Linked DNA regions of Homo sapiens. The protein of the gene in region 1 interacts with the protein of each later gene in a pairwise test. Each region holds a gene or a part of one and is shown on either strand. Other genes may lie near its edges.

Region 1 (7,113 bases):
CTTGTTTGTGGAAATCCTTCTTTGTTGCTATACCATTCCTTACTTTTATATAGATTGGGTTATTCATTCAACAAGTATTCATTAAGCACCTATGCTATGCTGGGCACTGTGTAGAGCATGAAAGGTATGTACACTGATGGTATGTTCCTGTCCTCAGGGAACTTATAGTCTAGTGGACAGATGAAGGGCAGATGCAGGACGGCAGGTGGTATGTTTTCTGCTCTGAAGCACAGTGTGGTGGAGCGGGAAGAGTGGCTCTGGGAACAGACTGCATGGGATCCAGTCCCCATTGTGGGCATTTCCACTAAGGAATTACTAAGCAGTGGCCACTTCTTATCTGTCATACTTAATTCAGTAATTCCTTAGTTTTCTTTAAAATGGAGATCAAGATTTACCGCCACCATCCCACGCCCGGAAGGGCTCCTCATGCTCTCTGCAGCATGGTGCTTCTGTCGCTTACAGAACAACTTGCCTTTGATGATTTTCAAGAGAGTTGTGCTGTGAGGTGGCAAAAGTATCCAGGCAGCAGGATGCCAGTGCCTCAAGGAAAAAATGGTCCTTTTCGGCAATGTGTTCGGTACTGGGGGCTTGGCCCTTGTGTATTACCGCATACAAAAGACTTTTTCCAGGGCTTTGTATTACCAGTTGGCATTGGAGCAGGTGCATAGCCATCCCAAGGCACAGGGAGCTCTGGGCCCTCTTCTCAACATTCACTGTCTCAAACTCACCAAGCACAACTTTGTGGACATTGCTGATGCCAAGTTGAAGATTCCTAGCTCTGGATCCAAGTCAGAGGGCCATCTCCATGTCAGCTCATCCAGAAGTGCCCCTTTCAGAGGTGGCACCTTGATGAGGTCTTCCTAGAGCCCAAGGATGGCCAGCAGATTCCCTTGTTCAAGCTCAGTGGGGAGAATGGTGAAGAAGTGAAAAAGGAGTAGAAACGATCCAAAAGACCCAGCTTTCTTCTAGTCTGGCCTTCCCTTATCTCCACCATGTGCCCACCAGGGGTGATGGCCCATCTGAGTGACAGACACTCCCGTAAGCTAATTTTCCAGCCACCAGTGGAATGATTGTATGTGCTGGCATATGGTAATTTTGGTATAATTCTAACTTGGGCACAACGAATGCTATTGTCATTTTTAAACTGAATCAGAAAGAAACTCTTATTATAAGATAATTTATGTGAAAGTTCTTTGTTTAAGAAAGCACATGATAAAAGGAATCAGAATTAAGAAAACATTCATTGATTTAAAAAACAAATAAATAGGCCGGGCGCGGTGGCTCACGCCTGTAACCCCAGTACCTTGGGAGGCTGAGGCGGGTGGATCACCTGAGGTCAGGAGTTCAAGACCAGCCTGGCCAACATGATGAAGCCCCGTCTCTACAAAAATACAAAAATTAGCTGGGCATGATGGCGAGTGCCTGTAATCTCAGCTGTTCGGGAGGCTGAGGCAGGAGAATCGCTTGAATCCAGGAAGCAGAGGTTGCAGTGAACCAAGGTCACGCCACTGCACTCCAGCCTGGGCAACAGAGAGCGACTCCATCTCACACGCACACACAAATAAAATAAAATTAAATAAATAAAATGGAGATCAAGACTAGCTACATAATTTGTGAAATGTACAAAATGAAAATGCAGGGCCCTTGTTTGAACAGTATTAAGAATTTCGGCCAGACACAGTGGCTCACACCTGTAATCCTAGCACTTTGGGAGGCCAAGGTGGGTGGATCATCTGAGCTCAGGAGTTCGAGACCAGCCTGGGCAACATGGTGAAACCCCATCTCTACTAAAAATACAAAAAATTAGCCAGGCGTGGTGCCATGTGCCTGTAATCCCAACTACTCGGGAGGCTGAGACAGGAGAGTTGCTTGAACCCAGGAGGCGGAGGTTGCAGTGAACCAAGATCACGCCATTGCACTCAAGAGTGGGCGACAGAGCGAGACCCTATCTCAAAAAAAAAGAATTTCAAGATGAGGCTAGGCGCGGTGGCGCCTGTAATCCCAGCACTTTGGGAGGCCGAGGCAGATGAATAGCTTGAGCTCAGGAGTTTGACACCAGCCTGGGCAACATGGTGAAACCTCATCTCTACCAAAAAAAAAAATTAAAATTAGCCATGCATGGTGGCTCATGCCTGTGGTCCCAGCTGCTCGGGAGGCTGAGGTGGGAGGATTGCTTGAGCTCGGGAGGCAGAGGTTGAAGTGAGTCGAGATCATATCATATACTCCAGCATGAGACCCTATCTCAAAAAAAAAAAAAAAGAATTTCAAGATGAGACAGCAGAGCATTAAGCCAATCACACACTCTTTTATTCTAAGTGTGGGGCCCTCTGCGACTGCATAGATCACACACATGCCCAGGAAGCTGGCCCTGATGGGGATGATCATAGTACCTTCTACTAGTACCCTACTAATGAAAGCGTTGTTAGGAAGATGAAATTGGCTAAAGTGCCAACAATAGTGCCTGAATTAAACACTCAATATTAGCTGTTATTATTATTTGTATACTAATTATTCTCATCATTAAACAAAACAAATTGTCAGTCAAAAGCTATTTCTTGCTCATCACCATAAGAACTGATGTTCTGCTTTAAAAGCCACATCTTGACTTTGGTTTGGGATTGCATATCAAATCAAAGCGCAGTCCCTGCTTCCAAAGCATAGCCTCCTGGTATAGCAGGAGGATCAAGGCAGCATTTATGGGAGCCAGACCTGTATTTCTCACCACTTCTGACCTCCACACGTCCCAGTCTCCACTTGTTAGCTCCTCTACCCCTATAAACTGCTCCACCATGTGCATTCGCATTTAGTGAGCACCTGTGTTGTGCCAGGCATGGTGCCAAGCTCAGGTGAATAAGGTAGACATGGCCCCCCCCTCATGGGGCTACATTTTAGCAATCCCTTAGCTTAGGTGATGGGTCCGGAGGATGCCAAAGCTGCCTGCCTCATTAGGAACCTCACTGCTCTCTTCTTGTAGCCAGTCTGGTGACCACCTCAGAAGTGATTCTCAAACTTGGCCTGCTCTGGGCTGTGTACCCAAAATCTCTGCCATCACCTCTACCAAAAACCCTTTGCATCCTGTCCTTGCTTACTAGGAAACAATCTTGTAACTAATTGTCTTGCCCACTGGACTGCTAGACTGTGGGCTCCATGTGGGCAGACTTCCTGAACCACGCTGGTATGTCCACTTGGTATGTGCCAGGTACACTTGATGGTAAGTGCACAGCAACTGGTAGTTGAGTAACTAGGTGAGAAATTACACACAGCCTGACGGGGAAGAACAGCACCTTTTGGCAGAGTCTGTCGTTTTGTTTGATGCCCCACAGAAGAGGGTTCTCCTAATGGCCATCACCACAGGGCGTTTGAATTTGCGCGTCTGTCTTCCCCACTTCTCAGTGAGCTCTTTAAAGACTAGCACCAATAAGCGTTCAGCTAGTGTTTGTGCTGCTACTTTTTCATACCTCATCACCTGTCACATGTCTGACATACAGCAGGTGATCAGTAAACACCAAAGTAAATCTCCTGGCCTCTTTTTGTGTCAGTTGTCACTCCACCCCGATTATTCAGTGTGCGATCAGTGTGAGCATATTGTGGTGAGGGGCTTTAGAAAACCCACTCGTGTTTCCTCTCTTGTATTGCCCTTGTATTGCCCTGAAAAGACCAGAAGCCAGATCTTGCTTGATAATGATAGGTTGGACAACCTTCACATAAGTGATTCTGCCTATAAAGTATATCTTTTTTTTTTTTTTTTTTTTTTTTTTGATAGCAGGGTCTCACTGTTGCTGAGGCTGGAGTGCAGTGGAGTGGTCTCCGCTCATTGCATCCTCCGCCTCCCAGGCTCAAGCGATCCTCTCACCTCAAACTCCTGAGTAGCTGAGACTACAGGCACGTTCCACCACGCCGGCTAATTTTTTTAATTTTTTGGTAGAGATAGGGTTTCGCCATGTTGCCCAGGCTGGTCTCAAACTCTTGAGCTCAAGCGATCTACCTGCCTTGGCCTCCCAAAGTGCTAGGATTACAGGTGTGAGCCACTGCACCCAGCCTATATATCTAATATGTATTTTTTTTTCCTGCAAAAAGATTAAAAACACCTCTATTAGAGGAATTTTTTCCCTATTCGGAGTTTAATGAGTTATAAATACTACTTTCCACAACAAGCACTGTGTATTTTATGGGCCCAGCACACTTCCGACGCGTGACTCTGCTAGTTAGCACTGTGTATTTTAAAGTACTTTTATGCTCCTGTTGGGCTTCAGTGTCAGTGTTGAAGGGGCTAGTAATTTTTGAGCTGGCAATACGTTTTTAAAGTTATTCTTTTGAGTAACAAATATTTACTGAATGCTTACCATGGGTAAGCCTATTTTTCAGGCTGTGTGTGAGATTTAAAAGTACACAACTATTCAGCAAACACTTATTGTGCGTTTACCATGTGCAGGTTCTGTGCTAGTGGACAGGAAAGTAAGGTGACAGGAGCCGGACGTGGTGGCTCACACCTGTAATCCTAGCATTTTGGGAGGCCGAGAGGGCCCAAATTGCTTGAGCCCAGGCGTTCAAGACCAGCTTAGGCAACATAGCAAGACCCCCATCTCTACAAAAGAAAAAAAAAAATCTGGGCACGGTGGCATACACTTGTCCTAACTGCTTAGGAGGCTGAGGGGGGTGGATGGCTCGAGCTCAAGAGTTCGAGACTGCAGTGAGCTAGGACCGTGCCACTGCACTCCAACCTAGGTGACAGAGCCAGACCTTGTCTCTTTAAAAAAAAAAAAAAAAAAGCCATAAAGCAGCGAGCTAGGACCGTGCCACTGCACTCCAGCCTAGGTGAGAGCCAGACCTTGTCTCCTTAAAAAAAAAAGAAAAAAAGCCATAAAGATTAGCAAAAGGGAAAGATTCTACCCCTGTAAGAGCTCTCAGTGCCCTCAGTGGGCAGGGAACGTAGTCCTCGGTTATGAACCTGCATCTAAGAGTTATCAAAGTGACCTGGACAGAGTGAGGCAGTGGAGGTAGAGAAGGGCACAGCATTTCATAAAGGAATATCTCTCTGTATTAGTCATCTATTGCTGTGTATCAGATCACCCCCAACTTGGCATCATAAAACAACAGATAGTTCTGAGGGTCAGGAATTTGGGGGTGACTTAGCTGGCTGCTTCTGACCCAGGGTCTTTCATGAGGCTGCAGTCAAGCTGTTGGCCCAGGGCTGAGGTCATCTGGGAGCTTACTCACATGGTGGTTGGCAGGCCTCCTCTCCTCGCTGGCAGTTGGACTGGGGGCCTCAACTCCTCAGCACTTCACCCTCTCCACAGGGCAACCTGAGTGTCCTCAAGACATGGCACCTGGCTTCCCCTAGAGCTAGTGATCCAAGGTGGGGAGGGAGAGAGGGGGAGAGAGAAAAAGAGAGTGGGGGAGACAGGAAAAGGCCATAGTGTCATTTGTAACCCAATCTCAAAAATGACATGGTCATTTCTGCCATATACACATAGACACACAGATCACCTTGGTAAAGTGAGGGTGGTGGAGATTACACGGGATGCAAATACCAGGAGGTGGGTTTCACTGGGGCCATCTTGGAGTCTGGCTGCCACAACCTCTTCCTCTGGCTGGGGAGAGAAGCAATATGCTCAACAGCCTGCCATCTGGTATAGCCACTGCCAGGAAGGATGGTAGGGCTGGAGTGTTTCTAGGCAGGGCTGCTTCCCTCACTAGCATTCCTTTACATGACTGGTAGGATCCCTGCTGATGCTTCAAGGATAAGGCATGTTTGAGATGGTACACAAACCTAAATTCTCTTCACTATGTATAGTGTGCATTGTTAAAATATATACATGATAGCCCGGGCGCGGTGGCTCACGCCTGTAATCCCAGCACTTTGGGAGTCCAAGGCGGGTGGATCACGAGGTCAGGAGATCGAGACTATCCTGGCTAACACGGTGAAACCCCATCTCTACTAAATATACAAAAAATTAGCCGGGTGCGGTGGCGGGCGCCTGTAGTCCCAGCTACTCAGGAGGCTGAGGCAGGAGAATGGCATGAACCTGGGAGGCGGAGCTTGCAGTGAGACGAAATCGTGCCGCTGCACTCCAGCCTGGGCGACAGAGCGAGACTCCGTCTCAAAAATAAATAGATAAATATATATATAACATAATCTGTAATATACTGTATAAATCATGTAGTAAACTGGGCACAGTGGCTCGTGCCTGTAATCCCAACACTATGGGAGGCCGAGGCTGCCAGATCACCTGAGGTCAGGAATTCGAGACCAGCCTGTCCAACATGGTAAAACCCCATCTCTACTAAAAGTACTAAATTAGTTGGGTATAGTGGTGTGAGCCTGTAGTCCCAGCTACTCCGGAGGCTGAGGCAGGAGAATCAATGGAACCTGGAAAGCAGAGGTTACAGTGAGCCGAGATTGCACCATTGCACTCCAGCCTGGGTGACAGAGCGAAACTCTGTCTCAGAATAAAAAAATACATAATATAGTAATTAACTATACTAATTTATAATTAATATAATTATATATAATAATAAAAGAGCATGAAATTTGAGGCTTTTAAAAAAACCTAGGTGAGATATTTTCTAATAATACAATCCCAAAGTTTACATTGTAAAGGTTAAACAGTTTTCAAGCTAAGTCATTTACTGTATCTTACAGGATAATTTATTTGGCTAACATAAATTAGTAACTGAATTTAACATTTTTTTTCAGGTGTGTTTTGATTGTGGTGCCAAAAATCCCAGCTGGGCAAGCATAACCTATGGAGTGTTCCTTTGCATTGATTGCTCAGGGTCCCACCGGTCACTTGGTGTTCACTTGAGTTTTATTCGGTAAGTGAATCTTCTCTCATTGGGGTGAGATTGATTACATTGTTACATGGGTGTTTTTTTCCCTTTTTTCTTTTCTTTTTTTGAGACAGTGTCTTGCCTTGTCGCCTGTCACCTTGGCTGCAGGAGTGCCATCATAGCTCACTGGGCTCAAGTGAACTCAGCCTCTACAAAAAATAAAAAATGTTGTGGTGTGATGATGTATAACTCTAGTCCTAGTTACTCAGGAGGCTGAAGTGGGAGGATCACTTAAGCCCAGGAGTCAAGGCTGCAGTGAACTATGATCTTGCCGCTGCATTC
Region 2 (7,113 bases), on another chromosome or scaffold:
TAAGTAGGAAGGAGGTGCCCTTGTCTTTGCTTGTTCTCTGTGCTCAGGGAAACTTCAGAAAGGTCAACTTGGCATCTAGGCTAGATTTAGTTATCTACTAGTTTAGGATCCTGCCTAAATCATCTGGTTTAGGATGGTTTAAGTTGATGGGGATGTGGAGAACTGAGTGTTAAATTTTCCTTTTCAGTTGAAAGAGTAGTTTCTGTTGCCAAGAAGAAGGAAATGGTACTTCAGCTTTCTTCGTGACAGCTTGAAATGTGCTCAAAATTATAAAATCTTAGACAATGATGACTTAGATATTAGTATTTACCTAAGAATTTGCTGTTGTAGAAATCTACATTGCAGGCTATCAAAATTCTACCTGCTTGGTCTGAAGAAAGAAGAAAAAGAAACTGCAAATGAAGAGATAGGTAAAACTGTGAAGGTGCTATTGTTTTGTCAGAGTATAAATATTGGGTGTCATGTTTGGCAGGTAAGATCAGTAAAGTGGTTTTACAAAAGATTTTATATCCACTTGCTTCAGAGAAGCCAAGTGTCAACTTTAATTTTTACATATAAATAGAAGATAGAAACCTATTTATTTCAGATTACATAATTTGTTTATTATTGCAGTCAGGCATTTGTTTGGATTCAGGGCATACTGGGACATCCATTATTGGAGCTGAATGTCAGGGTCTATGCTAGAAAAAAATGTAGAAAAGGATAAGAAGAAATAATTAAGTGTTTTCAGTGAACTACTTGGCTTGAATAGCACAGATTGTATTAGCCAAAAAGGAGTCAGGGTGGCACCATAATTATTAAAGGAGGCAACACCTTAACATTAGTCTTTTTAAATATGTGTCATCTTGAATTTCATGTCTTTGATTGAATTGGGCTATAAGCATAGGCTTCTCTGGAGGTAAGTAGATTGAAAAGCACTCCTCAACAGAAAAGCTTAAAAGTAAATATCATCATAAGCATTCATTTAAAAAAGAAAGCCTGTTTTTGATCCAGAAGTTGTGACTTTTCATTCTCTGTGATGTTGGTGATAACTCTTAATTCAATTGTGACCTTGTTTTTCTTCCTTTCAGATGGGGCATTCTCTTCTCCCACCCTCGGGACTTTACCCCAGTGTGCACCACAGAGCTTGGCAGAGCTGCAAAGCTGGCACCAGAATTTGCCAAGAGGAATGTTAAGTTGATTGCCCTTTCAATAGACAGTGTTGAGGACCATCTTGCCTGGAGCAAGGTTAGTATCAATTGGCATGTGCTTTGAGCCTGAGATTATAGGTCAAGTTATAAATTATGGAGTACTTGGTTTTGAGGTTAAGGTACAAGTAAGCCTTAGGTTCAAAGTTCACTAATTATTTGAAAATTTCAGTTGAACCACACAGTGATCACATTGCTAAATCCATTGGTCAGTCAATTCTCAGCCCTCCTCTTGGCCTGCCAGCAGCATTCAACCCAGCTGATCACTGTACCTCCTGAAACTTTTTCCTTTCTTGACTTCCAGGACACCACATTCTAGCTGTTCCTGCTCACTGATTCTTCATCTCCCAACTCCTAATTTATGCTGAAGTTACCCTGAACTTATTTCTTGGACCTCATCTCTTTTCTGTCTGCACTCTTTCCCTTGGTGAGCTCATCCACTCACCTTTAAATACCATCTATGTGCTGTGATTCTCAAATTTTCATCTCTATGCCAGACTCTTCCAGGTTCATATAACCACTGCCTACCTAGCATCTCTCCTGGGATGTCCAGTCATCTCAAACCTAGCATGTCTAACTAGGCCTCATTCTTAGATCCAGAGTTTTACTCATCTAAGCTAATGGCAACTACATTTTTATAGTTGTTCACACCCCAAATCCAGGAGCCATTCTGAATTCTTCATGTTTTTTCACATCATACATCTGATTTATCCTCAAACTTGTCAGCTCTACCTTCAAAATATGTCCTGTATCATAGATAGAAGACTCACTTCCCAGGGATCTGTGTGACTTACCCTCACCTCTTTTGGGTCTCAACTCACAGGACATTTCATCAAAGCCTTTCTTGTCCTCATTATCTAAAATTATAACTCCTTTTCACGTTCACCATCCCCTTCTCCTCAGCACTCTGCATACTACCTATTTAGTTTGTTTGTTTCTTCCTAGTAGAGTATAAACTCAGCAGGAACAGAGACTCCTGTTTAGTGCACTGCTGGAACAATGCTCACTACTCAGTATATCCTAGGCGATCAGTCAATATTTGTTGAATGAATTAACTGAAGGAAATACCTACTTCTAGCAAAAGAATTTACTTGAACAGTAAATTTGGTGGTCTGAATTTACCTTGAAAACATTTTAAGAACTTGACTGCACTGTGCTGTTAAGTAATAATGATAACTACTTTTTGAGGGATGTATACTAGAAACTATGTCAAACGTGCAGTTGAATAAAAGATGTATTGACTTGTGAGTTAGGGGTCTGTGGCTGCATCCTATAGCAGTTAATGCCAGTTAATCCTAAATATCTGAGACTAGAAGAATCATGTGTAGGAGAAAAAAGAAGGGCAGTTATCTGTCTTGAAGTAGAATTTTTTTTCATTCCTTACACTTCTCAGTGAGTGGTAACTGTAGTTTTTGCTATCATTTTTCATTTTCGTTTTTGCAGTTGAACATACTTTTTTCACTCAGAGAGTTGGAGGGACTTGCCCAAGACTGCCCAATGGCAATGAGATTTCAACCTCAAATCAATGTTCTTTTTAATGCAAGATGATAAAGAGTAGGATTTAGCCTAATTTAGGATAGAATAAAGCCAAATAATTTAGGATAGGTTCTTTGGTGTTCATGGGTGTAATCTAATGCCCATGATGCAAGTGGCAGAGTAGAGAATTAGTGCACAGCAATAATTAAAGTGACATATTGCCAAAGGAAGCGGTTATAGCCCATTATATAATACCTTTTAAAGGACAGACGCATACTCAGGTTTATTTTACCTGCTGAGCTTCTGCCTTAGAAGTTTTCAGAATTGTGATTACATTGAATAGGAAAAAAGTCTGAACTATCAGAAGCAGTGCCGCAACTTTGACAAACAACTGATTATATAATAATCTGCCTCTAGCATGAGACTATATTAATTATTATTTAGCTCTGGTGACTTCATAAGCAGCCAGTGACAACAGAAAGTTAAGATAATAAAATGAAGGAATGTTACAATTTGTTATCATCCGGGAGCCTGAGGCAGGAGAATGGCTTGAACCCGAGAGGTGGAGGCTGCAGTGAGCTGAGATCGCGCCACTGCACTCCAGCCTGGGCAACAGAGACTCCACCTCAAAAAAATAAATAAATAAAAAGAATTTGTTGTTATCCACTTCAGAGCTCATTAATGCCACATTTGTCACATCTCCGTTGAGAAATCCACAATGGTTTTGTATCTGCTATGCCATCAAGCCCCTGTTTTACTTTCAAGCCTACACACAATAGACGTTATTCCAATTTTAAATCCTCTTTTCCATTACTTGCTAAACTCTATCCAACTAAGTTCCTCACTCTCCTATCAATAGTTTATGTACAGAGTTGCCCACATGTTTCATTAATATCGTTCCTGGCCGGGCACAGTGGCTCTCGCCTGTAATCCCAACACTCTGGGAGGCTGAGGCAGGTGGATCACAAGGTTAGGAGTTCAAGGCCAGCCTGGCCAAGATGGCGAAACCCCGTTTCTACTAAAAATACAAAAAAAAATTAGCCGGTGTGGTGGCGGGTGCCTGTAATCCCAGCTATTCAGGAGGCTGAGGCAGAGAATTGCTTGAACCTGGGAGGCGGAGGTTGCAGTGAGCCAAGGTTGCGGTGAGCCAAGTTCGCACCAGTGCACTCCAGCCTGGGCGACAGCAAGACTCTGTCTCAAAAAAAAAAAAAAAAAAAAATTAGATATATATATTTATATATATATATATTTATATATATACACACACACACACATACATATATATACATATGCACACGTATATAATATATATACACATATATATATGTGTGTGTGCATATATATATATAGTTCCTGATTCCTAGAATGCCTTTCTTTTCTCTGTGAAAAATCTTACCCATCCTTCAAGGGCCTAGATAGAAGTCCTGTTCTTTTCTTGAAGCCTTTTGTAACTTTTGGAGTCCTACAAATGGGAGTGTTCGTATACTTCAGTATTTACCATCCACCATTTAACATTAGTCTTGCATTTGCTGCTGCTTCATACTGGAATCATCTCTAACCAAATGAGAAGTTCCTTTGAAGGGAGGAGCCGTGTCTTACTCATCTGTATTCCACATGTATTTACCATAATGCTTAGCCCACCTTAAGTGCTATATCAATGCTTAATCAAATAACAAAACTAGATTTTTTTTTTCTCCAAAAGCTTCCAGGGATAGGAAAAGTAGAAATAAATGGATGAATAAAGTTTTACTAGGGAAGGAGGGAAGTGTATCATTTTTCTTTAGTTCAGACTTGAAATGCTTTGTTTTCTCTTTGAATTTCACCCTAGTTTAGGTTTACTTCTGCCTCTTCACCCATTTATTTTTGACTTGTCCTTCAAGTATATATTCAACTCTCCATTCTTGTGTTTGCTTTGTTTTGTGATTTGTTTTTTTTTTTTTTGGTCATTTCTTATTTGTCTTGTAACTTAGCATCTGAGTCAGGGTGCTTTATGAGGTAGGGACCAGATCTATAAGATTTTCTTTACATATGGCATTATTTCTAGATGTGATGGATTTAACAAACCTATTGTTATCTGATGATTTTTACAGTATTTGGGTACCCAGAGGTACCTTGTATTTGGATCTAACTAAATTATTGCAATTTTAAAGGGGTTGCTGCTATTTTCTCATAGCAGTAAAAGCATGCTGAATTTAAGAGAACTGGGCATGAAAACAGCTTTGGTCCATGATTACAACCTAAGTACTGTACTCTGCTGTTATTCCTGGCAATAATTGGAATGAAGAGTGTTCATCTACTCACTTTTTAAAATTAAAATTGCTTAAAGAAAATTACTGTGATTTGGTCCTCTTTCCTGTCTTGCAAGGTGATGGCTGTTAACTGATGAAATTCAGAGCATGTGTTGGGTTTAGATTCCTCTTTCCCCTTTTACTTGTGTTTCAGGATATCAATGCTTACAATTGTGAAGAGCCCACAGAAAAGTTACCTTTTCCCATCATCGATGATAGGAATCGGGAGCTTGCCATCCTGTTGGGCATGCTGGATCCAGCAGAGAAGGATGAAAAGGGCATGCCTGTGACAGCTCGTGTGGTAGGTCATACAAATTCATTTTGTAGTTAGCTTAACTGATCAGGCTGTATGTCCGTGTAAATGCTGGTACCAGCTAGAGGAGATAGGGGAATATCTACGATTATGAAATAACTGTGTATTGGCGACAATATCACTGATTATCTGTAATGCTGATGCAATTTTCAGCTAAATTTTCCAACTGCTTTATTCATAGTTCATGGAAATCTACAAAAAAAAAGTTGTTTATCCTAAAATGTCTTCCAGAATTGAGAAACCTTTTCATAGCTCTCCTGACTGCTCTCCTGACCGCCCTGTCTTTAAAGTGATGGGCCATATCCTTCTTCATAAGGCAGCTCTGTTTTAAATTTTTATTTGTTCTGTCCTCCGCCCACTAGAAAACAAACCCAATCCCTCATCTGAATAAATGCACAACTATTCAAGGAACAATATCAACTCCCATTAGTATTATTTTTATGATAGTCATCCCCAATTGACACAGCCTTTCCCTCGATTAAATTTGCATATCAGTTTTTCTTACTGGGAAAGCCAGAACCAAATAGAATTCCCTTCTACGTTTAGAAAATAACAGGGAGAAGAAAATTATCTGTATTCCAGCCATCCACATTAGCAGTTGGTGTATCCTTCTAGATGCTTTGTTTTTGTCTTGTTTTTATACCCTTGAACATTATTAATGACTGCAGAGCTTTCTAAGTGGCTTTAATAACACTCAAAGAACTCTTCCTATTTATGCCCCTCTGTGCTTTACAGGTGTTTGTTTTTGGTCCTGATAAGAAGCTGAAGCTGTCTATCCTCTACCCAGCTACCACTGGCAGGAACTTTGATGAGATTCTCAGGGTAGTCATCTCTCTCCAGCTGACAGCAGAAAAAAGGGTTGCCACCCCAGTTGATTGGAAGGTAAAGATGTTTTTAAAAAGCAGTTTCTCTACTTGCCTGAAGGGCCAGTCTCTAAATGGCCAACTTCAAGGTCTGTGTTACCTGTTTCTAGCACGCAAGTACACTGGGAGGATTTTTCCTCATGGCTGAGTTCAAGATTTGCTGAAAGGCCCTTTTCAAGGTCTTTATAACACCTTTTATACACAACACAAACTCCCTATATGGCTTTCCAACTTTTAGATAATTTGGAAAAATTATTGGTCAGAATGATTCCTTTTCCTAATAGAAGGTTTAAAAAAAAAAATTTTATCTAACCCTTCCCTGATGGCAAAATATTTATCGCACAATCTTAATTGGCCATTTCCGTTAAGTCATGGCTGTAAAAGTACTGGTGTATTAATGTCATTAAGTATTTAATTTCTCTTAAGCTTCATTCTTTTAAACCTGTGCTAGAATTCTCCAAAATTTGTTCATAAACTTTTCATCTTTAGGACATGGATAACATCACAAGAGTATCTTAACATTGCTACATTTTTAAAATAATGCTAACCTGAATAGCAGGTTTTGTTTTGTTTTTTTCTGACAGACAAATCACTTAAATTCTGTATCCACTAGTTAACTTATTATTACTTATTTATGTACTTATTGAGCCCAGATAGTAGTGAACTGGGGAGATAGCAGTGAATAATAGAAAGTCCTTGCCCTCATAGAACTTCCATTCCAGTGAGTGGAGACAAACAGTAAACAAGTTTATTAAGTGGTGATAACAGGTGCTACAGGGAAGAATCAAGCACAGATGGGGAGAATAACAGCACAGGGGTGGGAGAGTGACTGTCAAGGAATGCCTGTCTATGAAGGGACCTTTGGAGAAAAACACAGAGAAGATGTGACCAAGGCATGTATACTTGTGAGGGACGAGCACTATAGGCAGAAGGAGCAGTTAGTGCAAGAAACTGGGCCTACAAGTGAGCTTGGCATGTTGGAGGAA
Region 3 (7,113 bases), on another chromosome or scaffold:
TTTGGGAGGCCAAGGCGGGTGGATCACCGGAGGTCAGGAGCTCGAGACTGGCCTTACCAACATGGTGAAACCCCGTCTCTACCGAAAATACAAAAATTAGCCGGGCATGGTGGCAGGCACCTGTAATTACCCCTGCTACTCAGGAGGCTGAGGAAGGAGAATTCCTTGAATCTGGGAGGTGGAGGTTGCAGTGAGCCAAGATTGCACCATTGCACTCCAGCCTGGGTGACAGAGCGAGACTGTGTCTCAAAAAAAAAAAAAAGTTGTAATCTTTTTATAACTGAGTCTCAGAAAAGACATCCCATTTCTTCTACAGTACCATATTCTATTCTGTAGAAGCAAGTCACTACATTTAGTTGACACTCAAGGGAAGGGAAATCAGGCTCCATCTCTTGATGGGAGTTGTATCAAAGAGTTTGTGGGCATATCTTTAAAACCACCACATTCCTTTCCTCCGTGATCTACAAATCAACTCTGTTAGATACAATTTGTCTTATACACACTAGTCTATTCCTGGCCTTTTTATTCTGCTCCATTGGTTCAATTTGTGTATCTCATTTCTTTTCTTTTTTTTTTTTTTTAATTTAAACGTGGGTATATGCTCAGGACTCATTTTCTGGCCTTTTCACTCTGTGTATTCATGCATATTTATTCTGAGAGAGTATTGATTCTTCCATCTTTACCTTCTTTTTTAACATAAAACATTATTTAGTACAAATAATGAAAAATGATTTCATGACACATTTTCCAAGGAAAGTTACTTTTACATATTTTGAAATCCTGTAAAAACTGGGGATCACCTCTTAACAGTTAAGACCCCAAACTATGTGCTGGACATTACCTCAGACTCTTCCTATCTGTAACCAGATTCTTTTCATGTATCTTTTTTGTGGGGGGGGGGGGGGGGGGGGGGGGGGGGGCGGATGGGAAAAAACAAACCCTTGACAATTACTATAATGTGGATTATGGCCTACAAGATTCAAGGCCCTGGAATAATCCATGGGAAGCATTATGTCAAGTGTTCCACAGTGAATATTTGATATCAAATCTGCATTGAATATTATCTACTACCAGTTGCTGAGTGTGTGTGACCTTGAACAAAACGAAGCCCCTGACCTCTTCAAGTTTCTATTCTAGGGAAAGACAGACAAATTAAGTACTGTGTCAAGCAGTGGTAATTAGAACAGAGCAGAAATAGAGTAGAGGGAATAGGTAGTGCGGGGTAGGAGTGCTGTTATTTGATATAGTGTGGTGAGGGGAAGGTCTCTCTGAGAAGGTCATACTGGAACAGGAAGCTATGGAAGTGAGGGAGTGAAGCATGTATTCCAGGCAGAGGAAATAGCCAGTGCAAAGGTCCTGAAGGAAGAGTTTATCCCGTGTCATTAAAGGTATCGCATGGAAAGCAGTTTGTGTATACAGATTAGGTAAAGGAAAAAGTAGCAACATGAGGTCAGAAATATAAGGGAAGAAAGGATCTTGCAGGCCTTTATATGAACTTTGGTTTTTATTCATAGAGAGCTCAAAAGCCATTGGAGGGTTTTGAGCAAAGGATAACATTTTCTGCCTTACATTTTTAAAAGATTGTCTTGGCTGTTGTGTTGATAACAGACTGAAGCTGGGGCAAGGGCAGAAGCAGAGAGATCATTTAGAAGGCTGTTAGTGCAAAATTCAGGCAAAAGGTGATGGTAGTTCAGATCAGGAGGCAGTACAAGTGGTCAGATTGCAAATGTATTTTGAAAATAGAGCCATCACCACTTGCTGAAAGATTGAGCTCCTGGACTTTAACAGCGCATCTGGAATTTTTTGCTTACTTGTGTTGTTTTGTAGAAAATTCACAAGTACAAAAATAAAAAGGAATTATTTATCTTCCTTTGAGAGGTGACCAGTGTTAAAATTTTGATGCATAACCTTTCTAGTTTTTGTTGTTTAAATCTACTTTGTATGTAATGAACACTTTCTATGTTGTTAATCTCCAACATTCTATGTTGTTAATTTCCAACAGCTATATAATGTTTCATTGCATGAATGAATGAATGGATGAATTATAGTTTGATTCCCTGTCAACATTTAGGTTGCTTCTAGGTTTTTTGTGTTTTAGATGGTATTTGAGAGAACACCATTCATTTTTTTAAGCATATACATGATTAGGAAAATAAGTTTCCAACAACTTTTTGAGACCTGGAAATACCCACAAGGGAGGTTTAACAGGCTCATGAAATAGTGTCTCTTCTCTGCTGACAACCTCTTGGCTTTACAAATTACTGGTAACTTGTGTTCCAAATAAAAATACCTCCAATTCACCCCTTTTGATTTTATACTAATAAATGAGTCTCCCTCTATATTTCATACTAATACTTAGTGGATACACTAAAGTATGAGCAAATGAATTGTCATATGGGCTGGTACATTTATTTCTATATTATACTCCGGGGAAAATAAAATCACATTTGTCGAGGTTTGCAAATGAATGTTTTAATGTCTTTCACCATCTTAGTTTGTGTTTAAGAATTTCTAGAATGTAGCCAGGCATGGTGGCACACTCCTTAGTCCCAGCTACTTGGGAGGATCACTTGAGAGTTCAGGGCTGCAGTAAGCTATGATTGTGCCACTACACTTGAGTCTATACAACAGAGTGAGACTCATCTCTTTAAAAAAGGGTAGTGGGGGCTGGGCACAGTGACTCACACCTGTAATCCCAGCATTTTGGGAGGCCAAGATGGGAGGATTGCTTGAGTTCAGGAGTTCAAGCCCAATCTGAGCAACATAGCGAGGCCTCATCTCTACTAAAATTCAAAGAAAAATTAGCCAGGTGTGGTGATGCACACCTGTGATCCAGCTGCTTGGGGGACTGAGGTGGGAGGATCACTTGAGCCTGGGAGGCCAAGGCTGCAGTGAGCCCTGATCGTGCCAGTGTACTCCAGTCTGGGCGACAGAAACCCTGTCTCAAAAAAAGAATTTCTAGAATGTTAGCCAATTTTTAATAATCAGTGTGCTTACAGTTTTAGTGACCCTTGTTTTGGTTGTAGTATTGCTTATCTTTTTTTTCTTTTGTCTTTTTTCATCTTACTTTGTGTAGATTGCTTCTATCTTTGCTTTTGCCACCTGTGGAGGTTTTAAGGGCCAAACAGAAATTCAAGTGAATTGTCCTCCTGCAGTTACTGAGAATAAAACTGTTACAGCTACTTTTGGTTATCCATTCAGGTGAGTTATATTTATTTTAATGGTTTCACAACTCTTTTTACTTTCACAGTGAGTCATTAAGATTTCCAGCAATTTATTGATTGTGGGGGGTAGAAAATTTTAGACTGTATGCTCATTTGTAAGTGATCATTACCTCCCAAACTGTGGTACACAGACCCATGCCTGTCTAAAAACATCTCCTGATCTGTGACAAAATAGTACAGAAAGTGAGAGTAAGCATTTAGAAACTTTTATAACAATGTGATGTTGCCTTGATAATTTTATTCTAACAGAGGATTGGAAATGTAAAAATAAAGCAAACTAGAGATTGTTCTATCACCTTAGTATAAGAAGCCCTAATGTAGAAGGAAACATAACTTAGAAAAATCCAGATTCTCAGTGTTTTTTGTAATTGCTGAATATTAATGTCTTTATATAGTTTTAAGACATATGTATATAAAGAGATTCCATATTTCATTCATTAGCATAAAGCCACACTTTCTTAAAGTAAAATGAGTATTTCATCTGTGAAGTCTTGTTTGACATCAGTATCCATTGAAAAGTTTATTGAATATGTCCTGTGTTTAAGCCAGGGTGGGAATCTTCTTTCACTTACTAATTTTACTTACTTCACCCAAGACTCAATTTTTTGGTCCAGTAATTGGAAGTATTATCTTGTAAGGCTGTTTTGATGATTAAATAAAATCCCCATATTAAAGATAAGTCAGATAATAAGTGGTTAATCATCAAAGCCTCTCTATCTTGTATCCTTTCTCCTAGACACTTCTCACATAAGGGACTGTTACAGCATCTTTAGTGACAAGTTTTTTACAATTTATGGTTGGGAAAAATGAAAGGCAATATTTATTGTTAGCAACTATTGATCCAGGGTTAAAAATGTGAATCATTGTTGTGATTGGCTCTCTTGGGGCTAGTCACACATACTCTGCCACACAGAATGAAATATGATGTCTCAAAGTATAAACCATTTGGTATAATCTCTCCTACCTAATTGTTTACTGCAGGAAGATAGTATCTGGGTATGAAAGTATTTAATTCAGTCTATATTCAATGTATCATAAACTAATACCAGGTATAACATATACATTTATTATGAAAATTTCAGTTTACTTAAATATAATATTTGAATTTTACTTTTTTCCCCAAAGGAATGTTTTTAATATATTTGGGGAGTATTTTTTGAAGTGTCACTCATTGTTTTGCTTAAATGTTTCTGTCTCTGTTGGGAAAGTCCAATAATTCATACATTTATTTTAATAGGTTGAATGAGGCATCATTTCAGCCACCTCCAGGTGTAAACATATGTGATGTAAATTGGAAAGATTACGTCCTCATAGGCGATTACTCTTCTTCTGCACAATTCTATGTTACCTTTGCAGTCTTTGTGTTCCTGTACTGCATTGCTGCCCTTCTGCTTTATGTTGGCTACACGAGTCTGTATCTGGATAGTCGTAAACTTCCTATGATAGTAAGTAATCACTTTATTTTTTAAATACAAAAATAATTTGTATAAGCTAAATATAGATTTTCTTATACTGGAAATAAAAATTCTTGGTGTAAGCCAGTTCAGCATATTTTAGCCTGTGTTTGCCACGAGGTTGAGCTTTCTCCCATTAAGTTTAACTCAATTTTTTTTAGCCTATTTGCACTATAAGGAAAGTTTATTTCTTTTTTAAATCTATTTTAACTTGGAAAAAACTCAGATATGTAATAAAGCACATCAGGTTACAAATAGCAAAAAAATTAAGTCGAAATTCTTTTAATTTGAAGAATTACTTATCACAACATAGTCTCATAACTCTTTCTGCTTCTTACTTTTTTTCTTTCTCTAAAGGCCCACTTTATACTTCTACAAAACTTATTGAGTTTAATTATATCATGGGTTCACAAACTATGTCCCAGAGGTCACTGTCTTATTTTTTATTTTTACTTCTTTATTTATATATTTACTTTTTGAGACAAGGTCTCGCTTTGTCGCCCAGGCAGGAGGGCAGTAGCACCATCTTGGCTTGCTGCAGCCTCAACCTCCTGGGCTCAAATGATCCTCCTGAGTAGCTGGGACTACAGTCACAAGCCACCATACTCAGTTACTTTTTGTGTATTTTTGTAAAGACGAAGTTTTACCATGTTGCCCAGGCTGGTCTCAAACTCCTGGGCTCAAGTGATCTGCCTGCCTTGGCCTCCCAAAGTGCTGGGGGTTATAGGTGTGGCCAGGAGCCTGGCCTTGTTTTTTTAAATAAAGGTTTTTTTTGGAACTCAGCCATACACAATCATTTACACATTGCCTATGGCTGCTTTCACACTGCAATGGTAAAGTTGAGTAGTTGTAACAGAGATAAAAAATAGTTGCTATTTGGCCCTTTTCAAAAGAAGTTTGTTGATTCCTGGTCTATGTCCCTAAACTCCTTAATTTAAAATCAGACCCAGGTAATTCTTATACTCAGCATTAGTGGCAACCATGAACTAATTTTGAATCTTTGAGGTATCAACAAAGGACTTAGATTTGAAGTCCTATACTTTTGGCTTCAGAGCCTACTGAGCTAGAAATATTCTCTGAGATTTAGTTAGTAGAATCTGCCCTGGATTATTGGTGGCAAATCCAGAGAGAAATCATGGTTTTAAGCTACACCTCCACTATAAAAGAGTAACTACAAAGTCAGTTATTAGTGACTTAAAGGGAAAACAGAGGTGTTTTTTATGTGTGATACTGGTCATTCATATGTATGAGAAAACACATCTGCTAATTATTTGTGAAGTTACTTTAAAGGGAAGGCTATTTAAATATGAAGGATTATTAAATAACATTACAAGTTTTATTTACATATTTATTTTTAATTTTGCTGCTGGATCATAAGAATGGAAATGGTAAGTAATACAACAGTCTTTTATCATTCATATTTAATTCTGTTTCTTATGTCATAGGAGACACAAGAAAACTAGAGGTTTTCATAAAATACTTCTCGGTTGTTAAAAAGATAAGACGTCAACTGTTTTAATTTGCAGTGCTTATCCAACATACTTGTTAGGAATCTGTGTCTTCTGCAGACTTTTCAAATCTTATTTAAAAGGGAACTGGAATAATCTTATAGATAATTATATTTTGTTAAAATTCTTTATAACTAGAAGCTATTTCTTGCCATTTTGTCATCCCAACAAATTTTTTTACTAAATCTATCAGTGTGCCCTTTATTTCTCATATTTTGTCTAGTAAACTTTTAAAAATACTACCCTTCTTAAAGCAGCATTCCAATCTATTTTTGTAGGTGGTTTTTGTCTGATAAAACTATAAAACTGACCTAGTTGCATCATTCAGAAACGTAAAAAGTAATTTTCCACCTCAGAATGACCAATTAGTGGTCATATAAAGAGATAATCCAAAATTCCTTAAGTAGGTTTTTATTGTTACATAATGGGTGCTTCTTGTCTATAAAAGTCTAGCTTCTAAATTTAATTTTCAGTTCTATTTTTAATGTAACCATAAAAATATTAAAAGATTTTCTTTGAGAGACTGGGTGCAGTGGGTCATGCCTGTAATCCCAGCACTTTGGGAGGCCGAGGTGGGTGGATCACTCCAGGAGGTCAGGAGTTCGAGACCAGCCTGGCCAACATGGTGAAACCCCATCTCTGCTAAAAATACAAAAATTAGCTGGACATGGTGGTGGGCACCTGTAATCCCAGCTACTGGGAGGCTGAGGCAGGAGAATCGCTTGAACCCAGGAGGTGGAGGTTACAGTGAGCCAAGATCACACCACTGTATTCCAGCCTAGGTGACAGAGCAAGACTCCATCTCAGGGGAAAAAAAAAAAAAGGTTTTTTTTGAGATACCCAAAATTTAAGATATAGCCAAATATGACATTAATTTTTAGGTACTATTAATGAGGACAAGCCCTTTTAGCAATATTCTCAATTCTG

The links.
Region 2: the proteins of ARFGAP3 (region 1) and PRDX6 interact in binary tests that used the Homo sapiens proteins (3 or more experiments, as listed by UniProt).
Region 3: the proteins of ARFGAP3 (region 1) and SYPL1 interact in binary tests that used the Homo sapiens proteins (3 or more experiments, as listed by UniProt).

Annotation. Positions count from the first base shown.
Region 1 is NC_000022.11:42,847,217-42,854,329, reverse strand, and holds part of ARFGAP3 (ADP-ribosylation factor GTPase-activating protein 3), read left to right. Parts: intron 1-6,697; coding exon 6,698-6,816; intron 6,817-7,113.
Region 2 is NC_000001.11:173,480,256-173,487,368, forward strand, and holds part of PRDX6 (peroxiredoxin-6), read left to right. Parts: intron 1-1,070; coding exon 1,071-1,227; intron 1,228-5,105; coding exon 5,106-5,252; intron 5,253-5,999; coding exon 6,000-6,146; intron 6,147-7,113. UniProt on the Homo sapiens protein: Thiol-specific peroxidase that catalyzes the reduction of hydrogen peroxide and organic hydroperoxides to water and alcohols, respectively. Can reduce H(2)O(2) and short chain organic, fatty acid, and phospholipid hydroperoxides.
Region 3 is NC_000007.14:106,095,246-106,102,358, reverse strand, and holds part of SYPL1 (synaptophysin-like protein 1), read left to right. Parts: intron 1-3,076; coding exon 3,077-3,201; intron 3,202-4,461; coding exon 4,462-4,669; intron 4,670-7,113.